2 separate regions of the Homo sapiens genome follow, and region 1 is linked to region 2. Evidence: fine-mapped expression QTL. A gene starts in region 2. The other region holds a variant in brackets. All regions are shown on one strand. Distances are from middle to middle. Region 1 overlaps ABCD3 (ATP binding cassette subfamily D member 3). Region 2 holds the start of ABCD3 (ATP binding cassette subfamily D member 3).

Evidence for each region. PIP is the estimated chance that this variant, and not a neighbour inherited with it, causes the effect. A credible set is the group of variants that fine-mapping cannot tell apart.
Region 1: its variant is the best candidate, but not a certain one, in a credible set for the expression of ABCD3 in lung (GTEx, PIP 0.73).

The regions. Positions count from the first base shown.
Region 1 is chr1:94,515,726-94,520,126 of GRCh38, forward strand. ABCD3 (ATP binding cassette subfamily D member 3) reads left to right here. Exons shown (of 23, transcript NM_002858.4): 23 at 1,327-2,938. The coding sequence ends at 1,404. Among named protein-coding and RNA genes, the nearest start is that of F3, 24 kb to the right of the region's middle. The variant C/T (reference allele first, on the strand shown) is at 1,922.
Region 2 is chr1:94,416,514-94,420,914 of GRCh38, forward strand. It overlaps ABCD3 (ATP binding cassette subfamily D member 3), which reads left to right and starts at 1,876. Exons shown (of 23, transcript NM_002858.4): 1 at 1,876-2,075. The coding sequence starts at 1,966. RefSeq lists enhancers at 1,065-1,856, 2,328-2,467 and a silencer at 1,618-1,997.

The DNA.
Region 1 (4,401 bases), 99 kb after region 2:
TGCCATTCTCACTATGTCAGTTCTTTTCAACTCAATGTGAAATGCTCAAAACCTGAAAGTAAACCCAGTTTAATTCTCTTTATTTTCTTTCCTCCTCCCTCCCTCCCTCCCTTCCTTTCTTCCTTCCTTTCTTTTCTTCTTTCCTTTCTGTCTTTCCCCCTTCCCTCTTTCCTTTCTTCTCTTCTTTCCTTCTTTTCCTTCCTAAATGATATAGAAATTTTAGGTAAAAGCAAGGATTTGAGAAAAATTGGAATAATGGTAAAGGTGCCTTGTTCCACAAAATACATACCTGATTAAGGACCTTTTTTTGCCAGATACTGAGCTAAGTGTCATGAGGGATGCAAATTAATTACAGTTTTTACCTTCAAGAACTTTAGGATGTAGATGATAGTCTACAAGTGATAAAATGAAGAGCATAGGATTTGAAGTCAGAGAGCCTGGGTTCAGGCACCAAAGTTTCTAGCCTCAGTTGCTTCCTTTGTATAATGAAGTTATTGAGCCTTACCTTCCTATCTCTTAGATTACCATGAAAATTAGACAGGTAGCCTATATGAAAGTACTTAATAAAATTCAGTGAAATTCTATATAACTGTGTGACTTTTAAAGATAGCTTTTATTATTTTATGGCATATTATAACTTGTCAATTTTTCATGAACTGAGCAGGAAATTGAATAACTAGAAATCAAAGGCATTTAAAATATAGCCAAGCCTTTATGTTTTCTCGGAAGTTCATAAGTATTATAGCCATAGGACATTGAGAGGAATTGAGAGCATTTGGGTTTCACCCTTCCTCTTCTTTTGGAGGTATAGACAAGTAGCAAAATAATCATCACGCCAGTGATCATGTGAAGGAGGGGAACACAACTAGAATGTGAGGGGCCAGGATAGCTAAGAAATAGTAATACAGAAAATGGAAACTCAGAAAGCTTTCTGAAAATAAGCCACTAAATAAAAACAGAAGGCTTTGTAACTGCTGTTGTGTCTTCAGAGGTTAGGATATATCGGCAGTTTTTATAGCTCTTTTTCCCCTCTACTAAATTAAAAACAAATAAAAAGCCTTAAGCTGGAGATTTCAAGCTGATTAGGAAATCAGGCTACAGGAAACAATACTGACTGACCTATGGAACAGTCTTGCATTTAGCACAGTTTAACCTACTGGTAGCTGAGATCCTTGGTCATGGAGTTACGGAAGCATTCTGATTTGTGGGATGCTTATAGATTTAGCTCCCTTAAAATAATGAGGAAGTCTGTATTTTACTTTTCATAAAAGACAGTACTATATTCACTCTTAGTTACTGACTTTTTTTCCCCCTTCTTTCCCATAGTACTACCTGCATATGGATGGCAGAGGCAACTATGAATTCAAACAGATAACAGAAGATACAGTTGAGTTTGGCTCTTAGAGAAATCTGGAGAACTATACCTGCTTCAGTGAAATAATTACAGAATATACTTAGAAAGGCAAAGTACATTGTAAAATAAAGTTGAGCTTAGTTTTTTTTAAAAAAAAAAACAAAGCAACAAATTAACTAGATACAGAATAATGGAGAACAAGTTGTTAAAACATTTAATATTATATAGGATATTGCTAATTGTGTATATGTTGGTTTAATTAATAATATGTACTAAGAATGTCCTTATTCTTGTGGTTAAAAACCTGCCTAAATTAAATTGGGCTTCAATCACTGTAACCTGATTCATCCTGGGATGTAAACCATTCGAAGTCAGCTAATTGGACTTTTATGGCTCTATCTTTTCCTTCAGTGAAGAACCCTATTTAAAACTGGGTCATCATTTGTCCTGTTCTAGCAAGATAGTCTTCAGTTTCATTTTCCTGTGCCCTGTGGTAGTTGGAAACAAATCATAATGTATTATTTAAATGTTTAACATCATTGCATAACAGCGTTTATTATACAGTGG[C/T]AGATTTCTTTAGCTGCCACAGTAATACTCATTCCTTGTGTGTGTCTTGGAGTGCATTTGACTCCAGGAAAAGCCATTTTGGTTTTCCTTAACTAAATGATAAATGTACCCCTCTCAGTCTGCAGTATTGAGTTGTTTAAAGTATATGTGCAGTCTTGCTTACAAGGAGGGGTTACCATGTATCACACCTAATCTTCCCAATGTTTGGGATATTAAAACACAAAGTCCTTAACATGCCAGGCTCAAGGTCTTATAAGAGTTCTAGATTTTTAAGAGAATTAGACAAATTTGTGTGTGTTAGAAGCCCATTCATTAGAAGTGTGGTGGTTATTTGGTATTAAACTCCAAATGAGCCATAGGAAGGCACTACATGAAATAATGCACTGAGTATGCAATGCTATCACTGTCTTTGACTGTGATTTTATGTTTAAAAAGTATGTTCTAAAATTATTATATATACATGGGTGAATTATGTTTCCGAGGCACTGTTTTATCTCTGTGAATCTTGAATAACTTTTTTATATTTGGGTTATGATGTCAAACGATCCTAAGCGAAGATGATTTCAGTTCATCAAATCATCATTAATGACTTTATGTATTATTTGCACAGGGAGAATTGAAACTGAGTATAATCAATAAGCTAGATACGAAATCAGTTTCTCAAACTGAGCTTCAGAAAGGGGCATTTTGTACTCTTGTTTTTGCATAACTGGTTTTGTTTTTTTGCAGAATTAACTATAACAATCACTGGCTACCGAAGTAAACTGATGTACTGAATTCCATAATACATAACATTCAATTTTTACCACTTCTGTTTAGCGAACTTGTATACTTATTTTCTGTTCAGATTAAAAAAAAAAAAAAAAAACTCAGATATCCTATACAACCTTTGCTTGTTCTTTTTATTCTGGTATCTAAATACTGAGAAGTTCATTTATAATTCAGCCTTGACTTGAAAACATAGATAGTTTAATCTTGACTTGAAAAACACAAAAATAAATTCAGAAAATGCTTTTAGCACAGTGTCTCTTTTTTAAAGTTTTGCCAAGTGTGGTTTTTAATTGAATGAATTTCTCTTTTAGAAAAGTTCAGTAAAATCTGTGTACCTGACAAATGCTACCAAACAGCCAGGAGACCTTAAAAGATACTATTCGTCTTGGAAAAGATTTTAAGGCATGGGAAAGTTTCAGATTTTCAGATTTCTGGGTTACCTTAAACCTACTCGTAGAAGTATTCTCCTAGCTGCCTTATAATTGCTTTTGTTATGATTCTTGCCATCAAAACAACAACAACAACAATTTGGGCTTTTTTTCTTAATTATTTTCTTTTTTATGTAACAAATATTACAGTGCCTCACCATTTGAGGCACAGAGGAAGATCCTTCTGGAGAATCACATTAACATAATAGTGGTTCTTCGAAGACCCACAGTAAAGAAATCCATTGGTTCAAAAACATGATTGACCACGGAACATCTTTTTCTACATAATTCCTATTAACACCTTCCAGAAACTGCAGTGGGAAATGGTAGTTTAATCCGAAGAATAAACCAAAGAATAAGAACTTTCATCCATGAGCACCACGCTGCATGCCAAGACATATCACCGTGTTCTCATAATAAGTTTTTACTTTTTATATAATGAGAAAATAAGTATGAAACAGCAATGGTAGTTTGTTTTGCATTAATAGAATAAAATATATCTAGCATTTGTCTCTTTCTCCCCTTTCTGAATGATTAACATTTGGCTTAAAACCGGTGATATGATAGCATCTGGCATTACTTTATGTAAAGTTTTAACTTTTAAATTTGGTGTTTAAAATCATAATTTGTGCTGAGAAGCAGAATGAATTTTCTTCTAACAGATGGACTTTGACATTGTTAGCTGCAGGAAGCTGTCTCTTTTTTTTTAAACCTACATTAGTGATTTTTCCTTTGTGAAGAATTGGAATGTTCTGACCATTTCCATATACATAACATATGCATGTCACTTTAAGAAAGTGCCAAAAAAACTGAAAAGCAATCCCCTCCAAACCTTAGGAGCAACGATTTTAAACTCTTCTAGTTGGTGTAATTGCATTTCATTTTTTTAAACAATATGCCTTTATAGCCATTTCTTGATTTATCAATTTTAGACATTCCCTACCACCTTTGTTTCTGCCACATCCCCTCATGTAGTTAAATCATTTTTTAAATTTGTAAACATTTTATTGTAGTATATGTACAAAAACATTGATAAATTTATAAGAAAGCATACACACTGGTAACCACACCCAAACACCAAATGAAATAGAACATTGTTACAGCACTAAAGGCTCCTTCTTGTTCTCTTCCAATTATTAGCTCCTGACTTCTATCACATAAATTGGTTTTGCCTGTTTCTGGACTTTATATATATTAGATACCCTTCTGTGTATGGCTTCTTTCCCTCAGTATTGTGAGGCTGATTGATCCATGGTAAGTGTGACCATAATTCCTTCACTT
Region 2 (4,401 bases):
AATTATGTGAGGTCGTTGGGGCTCACAACACAATACTCCAAAATGAAGGTCTCAGTAGCAAAAGTTCTCTGCCCTACTCTGGCCCTCCTGTCTCTCAGTCCCGTATTTCCCTAGGCTAGCCATAGATATTAGGATCCCTATTCCTCAAGACAAGATGTAGAAACCAGAACCTCTATCCCCTAAAGCCAGCCATAAAAGCCTAAACATATTTTGCTAGTTTTCCCTCCCCCTTTTTCTGTAAAATCTGGCCATAAAGAAATTATCTGACCTGCCTTGTTTGACTGTAGGCTGTTAAGAGCTCCATTCCATTCCTGCCCTATACCCAGAAGGAAGGAATGGTGCTCAGAAGGCCAAGAAGAATCTAGACAGGCCTTGCTGGGTGTCCCCACTCAGTCTGTTAGCATTAGATTATACCATTTTTGTCCAATCACATTTCTACATAGCTGTCCATACTTTGTTGAACCTAAACACAAAAATGGACAATTTTCCAAGTATCTTTGGGTCTCCATTCTGAACGCTCCCATGTATACACATTAAATTTGTATGCCTTTTCTCCTATTAATTTTTTCTTCTATTAATCTGCCTTATGTCAGCGGTTTTCAGTTAACTTTCAGAGGGCCAAAACCTTTTGTCCCTCCAGGTAATGAAAATGTCCACATGACAAATAGTGAATTAGTAGGAGCTTCAGTTCTGCATAATTTAGAATTCACTGTTGAGCACCTCTATACGCATGCCATTATTGTACCTCGTCTTTGTGATCCTCATAACCTGTATTAGGCAACAGCTCATTTATATTGAGAAAACACCTAGGGCACAGCACCACTACTTTGTAGGCTACTTTAATATGTATGTGCATTATGCGAGGTTTTATGAGCTTATTTTCTGACACACTTGCTTTTCTCCAGTTTCCTCAGCTGAAAACAGCGATTCACTGTTACTGTATATATGCTAGGCTCAATGCTGGCGATAACAATTCCTGCAACATAGGGTCAGACAGGAGAAGAATGTTGTAATCTGCAAAGCCCTTCTGATTCTGGGAGTGAGGCCAGCATTAATACAACGCACGATTGTTACTTCTGAATGTCCCTTTGCAAAGAACAGTGTTTCTCAAACTTTTTTCTGACCAGATCTGCATACATTTTACATCGCCGCTGGCGATACATACGTGCAAAACACTGAAATCGAAATTTCTCTAAACAACTCCTTTACTACGTGATGTACTGTGAAACTTTTCTATTTTGTTCTATTCTCAATTTTATTAAAAACGGAGGGTGATGATCCCGATCTACCAAACCAATTTCACAATGCGCTAGAGATTATAACCCGCGGTTTGGAAAATACTGGCTTGGAAAAAGCTCTTTGATCTGTGTCATTCTCCTCACATCTCCCTACACCTCTGCGGAGTTCCGATTGTTTGGTTTCGTCCTGATAATCACTGTGCTGTGTTTTCCCTACACGCTCTGTGACGGGGCCGTCCGCCTCCTTCCTGGGCTCCTTTAAGAGGGTGGTAACGGTACATCACCGCGGGAGTGGAGAGGCAGGGCCCACTAGGTCGTCGCTGCAGGCCAGGCCCGCTCATCCAGTTATTGTGAAAGCCGGGGTGTGCGCGCGAAGAGTGGGAGGGTAGGGGTGAGGCAGGGGCAGCACTGACGCCTCGCAGGGCTGAGTAGCAACAGCTCCTCCGCGCCGCGTTTCCGGAGACCCTGAAGGAGTCCGCGCGTGCGCAGAGCGCGTCCCGGGAACTGTTCCGCCCACGGAGGCTGCCGAGCGCGCTCCCGCCGGGCCAAAGTACAAAGTGGGCTCCAGAGCGCGGGCGGCGCGGCGGCGCGAGCCAGGGGGCGGTCCTGCGCGGCCGGCCCCGCCCTCTGCTCTCCTCCCAGTCTCCCCCGCGCTGCGTGCAGTAAGGTAGCCGCCGCCGCCGCCGCCGCCGCGTCCCCTCGCCGGCTCGCTGGTACCGGCAGTGCCATGGCGGCCTTCAGCAAGTACTTGACGGCGCGAAACTCCTCGCTGGCTGGTGCCGCGTTCCTGCTGCTCTGCCTGCTCCACAAGCGGCGCCGCGCCCTCGGCCTGCACGGGTAAGAAGGCCCGTAGCCGTGCAGCTTTCCCGGGCTGGAGCGGGCGCTCCCCGCGCGCTCTCTCTCCCCACCCGGCCGACAGGTCTCTTTGCCCGACGGGGTCGGGCGGAGAGAGGGCCGACCGCGACTGCCGTGGGACTTCAATGTCAGGGTGTCCGCGAGTCCCCGCCACGACGGCGTCGGTCCCAGCTGGCCTGTCCGGCGACCTCGCTCCACCCCGGGAGTGCGAATTCTTCTGTGCCCGCGGGCGAACCGGCGCCCAGCCAGCACTCAGGCAGCGGCCTCCAGTTGGGGGTGGGAGGGGGATGCGGTGTGTCCCCCACCCCCTTCCCTACATCACCCCCTTCTGTGTCAACTTTCTGGGTGTGTTCTGGTTTTGCCATCTCATCTTCAGACCGTGAAGGATTTGTTTTGGGGACGTGGATGTGTGATTGAGGATGGGGATTGGATTCGCCAGGCTGGAGGCTGGTGTCTAAGTCACTTGGACGAGGTTTGGCTCGATTCCCGACTAACTGCTATTGAAAGTCGCGAGGGTGGCTTCTATGAAACTATTCCCGGTCCACTTGGCAGGATTGCCGTCTAAAGTGGTGAGCCCTTGGAGTCGGTGAACCCTTTGGTCGGTGAACATTTGGTCGGTGGCATTTCATCCGGAAAGGCTGGATCGGTTCTGTCGGACTTAGAGGGAAATGTTTTCCTTCCTGGGCTCTGTAGGTGAAAGATGAGAGTGTGGTTTAGGTGAGGATCAAGCTCCTTTTTAATGACACGCCACTGCTTCCACCGCGGGAGAATTTCAGTGCTTAGATTTAACTTTGGGAGGTTATCAGTTCAGAAAAAGTAAAAAAGAGAGAGCTGAATTACGGTTGCGACATACAGGTATGTATGTCACATACATGCAATTTTTATTTGCTGGACAAGTGAAAGAGAAAAGGCTACTTCCCAAGCGTTCTTGCCAGTCATTGAATATTTCGTATTAAATCTTGACATACTACTTTCATGAATTTTATTTCATTCATTCCTCTGAGCAGGTACTGTTGCCTCCCGTGTTTGATTTGCCTACAATATCTAATTAGTAGTAAAATTTGGGCTAAAACACAAATAGACTTCTAGTTTATAGTACCCTTTCCATTAAGTTCTTTCTAGCCGCCTTCTGTTTTTATCTTACTAGAGTCTGAAGTGATGATCTTTCTTTTCCTTCCTAAATCCATTTAACAGAGTTGAAAATGATTTGCAGCATAGTCTGGGCAATAACAGCGCTTACTCATTTTTCTTCTATTCAGTTTGCTTTTAAAAGGATTAATTTGGGAAAATAAAAAGCAAGTTTTTCTGTTGGTTTGTATGAACTCCCAGTTGCAAATAGAAGTTACCTGTTACCTGGGAACATGCCAGTAGAAAGAAGATGTTAGGTCCTTTAACTTGAATTCTGTTTTTGCAAAGAAGTGTTTCAGGGCATAGAACAGGTGTTTTAATATGGAGGAGGGGACTCGAGGACAGCCCTACAAGTTCTGGATTACTTTTATGATTATATGTATATGTGATATAGTATCACATACATGCCACATACATATAGTACACATAGAGCTTGAAGAATTTTTACAAGTAGAACACACTCGTGTAATCAGCACCCAGATCAAGAAACAGAACATTATCAGCACCCCAGAAATTCTCCTCATGCCCCCATCCAGTCACAGTCCACCTAACTACTAAACCAGTTTGTAAGACCATAGATTATTGCTAAGGGAAATTTTAAACAGAATCTATTGGGAAATAGTAGCGATAGAAGTAAAATAATGTAATAGAATTTGTCTTATTAAATAATTTTAGCTCCTCATTTGCCATTGTAAAATGCCTAAAAAAATTTTTTTTTGAGAAACTTTGTGAGCTTTTGTGGGGATTAAATTCTTTAGCAGGAGATGTACTGAACAAAAGATTATTATTAGTCTTTTGCATTGGGATGAGTGGGGAAAATCTCTATTTTACACAGTATTTTGTTGGAGGAGATTGCAGATTCTGAGCAGATAATCATGAAGTTTAAATTGTTGAGGTGAAATGATTGAACTATTTTGAAACCATTAAAAATGGTATTGAGTGTATTTTTGTAGATATTGTACTTCCAGAAGCTTACAAATATCTTTTAGTCACCACCTTTGGTATCACAGTTTGAAGATTAGAAGATTCTAACTTTATATTTGAGTGGGCTTTTGAATATCTTTGGTAACAGAACTGATTAATTTTAATATCTGGTGCTTAATTAAGGAAACTGTGGCTACTTGGCCTTCTTTTGTCTATGTTGTTAATAGTAGGTTGGTTTTAGAATATATATTCCCTT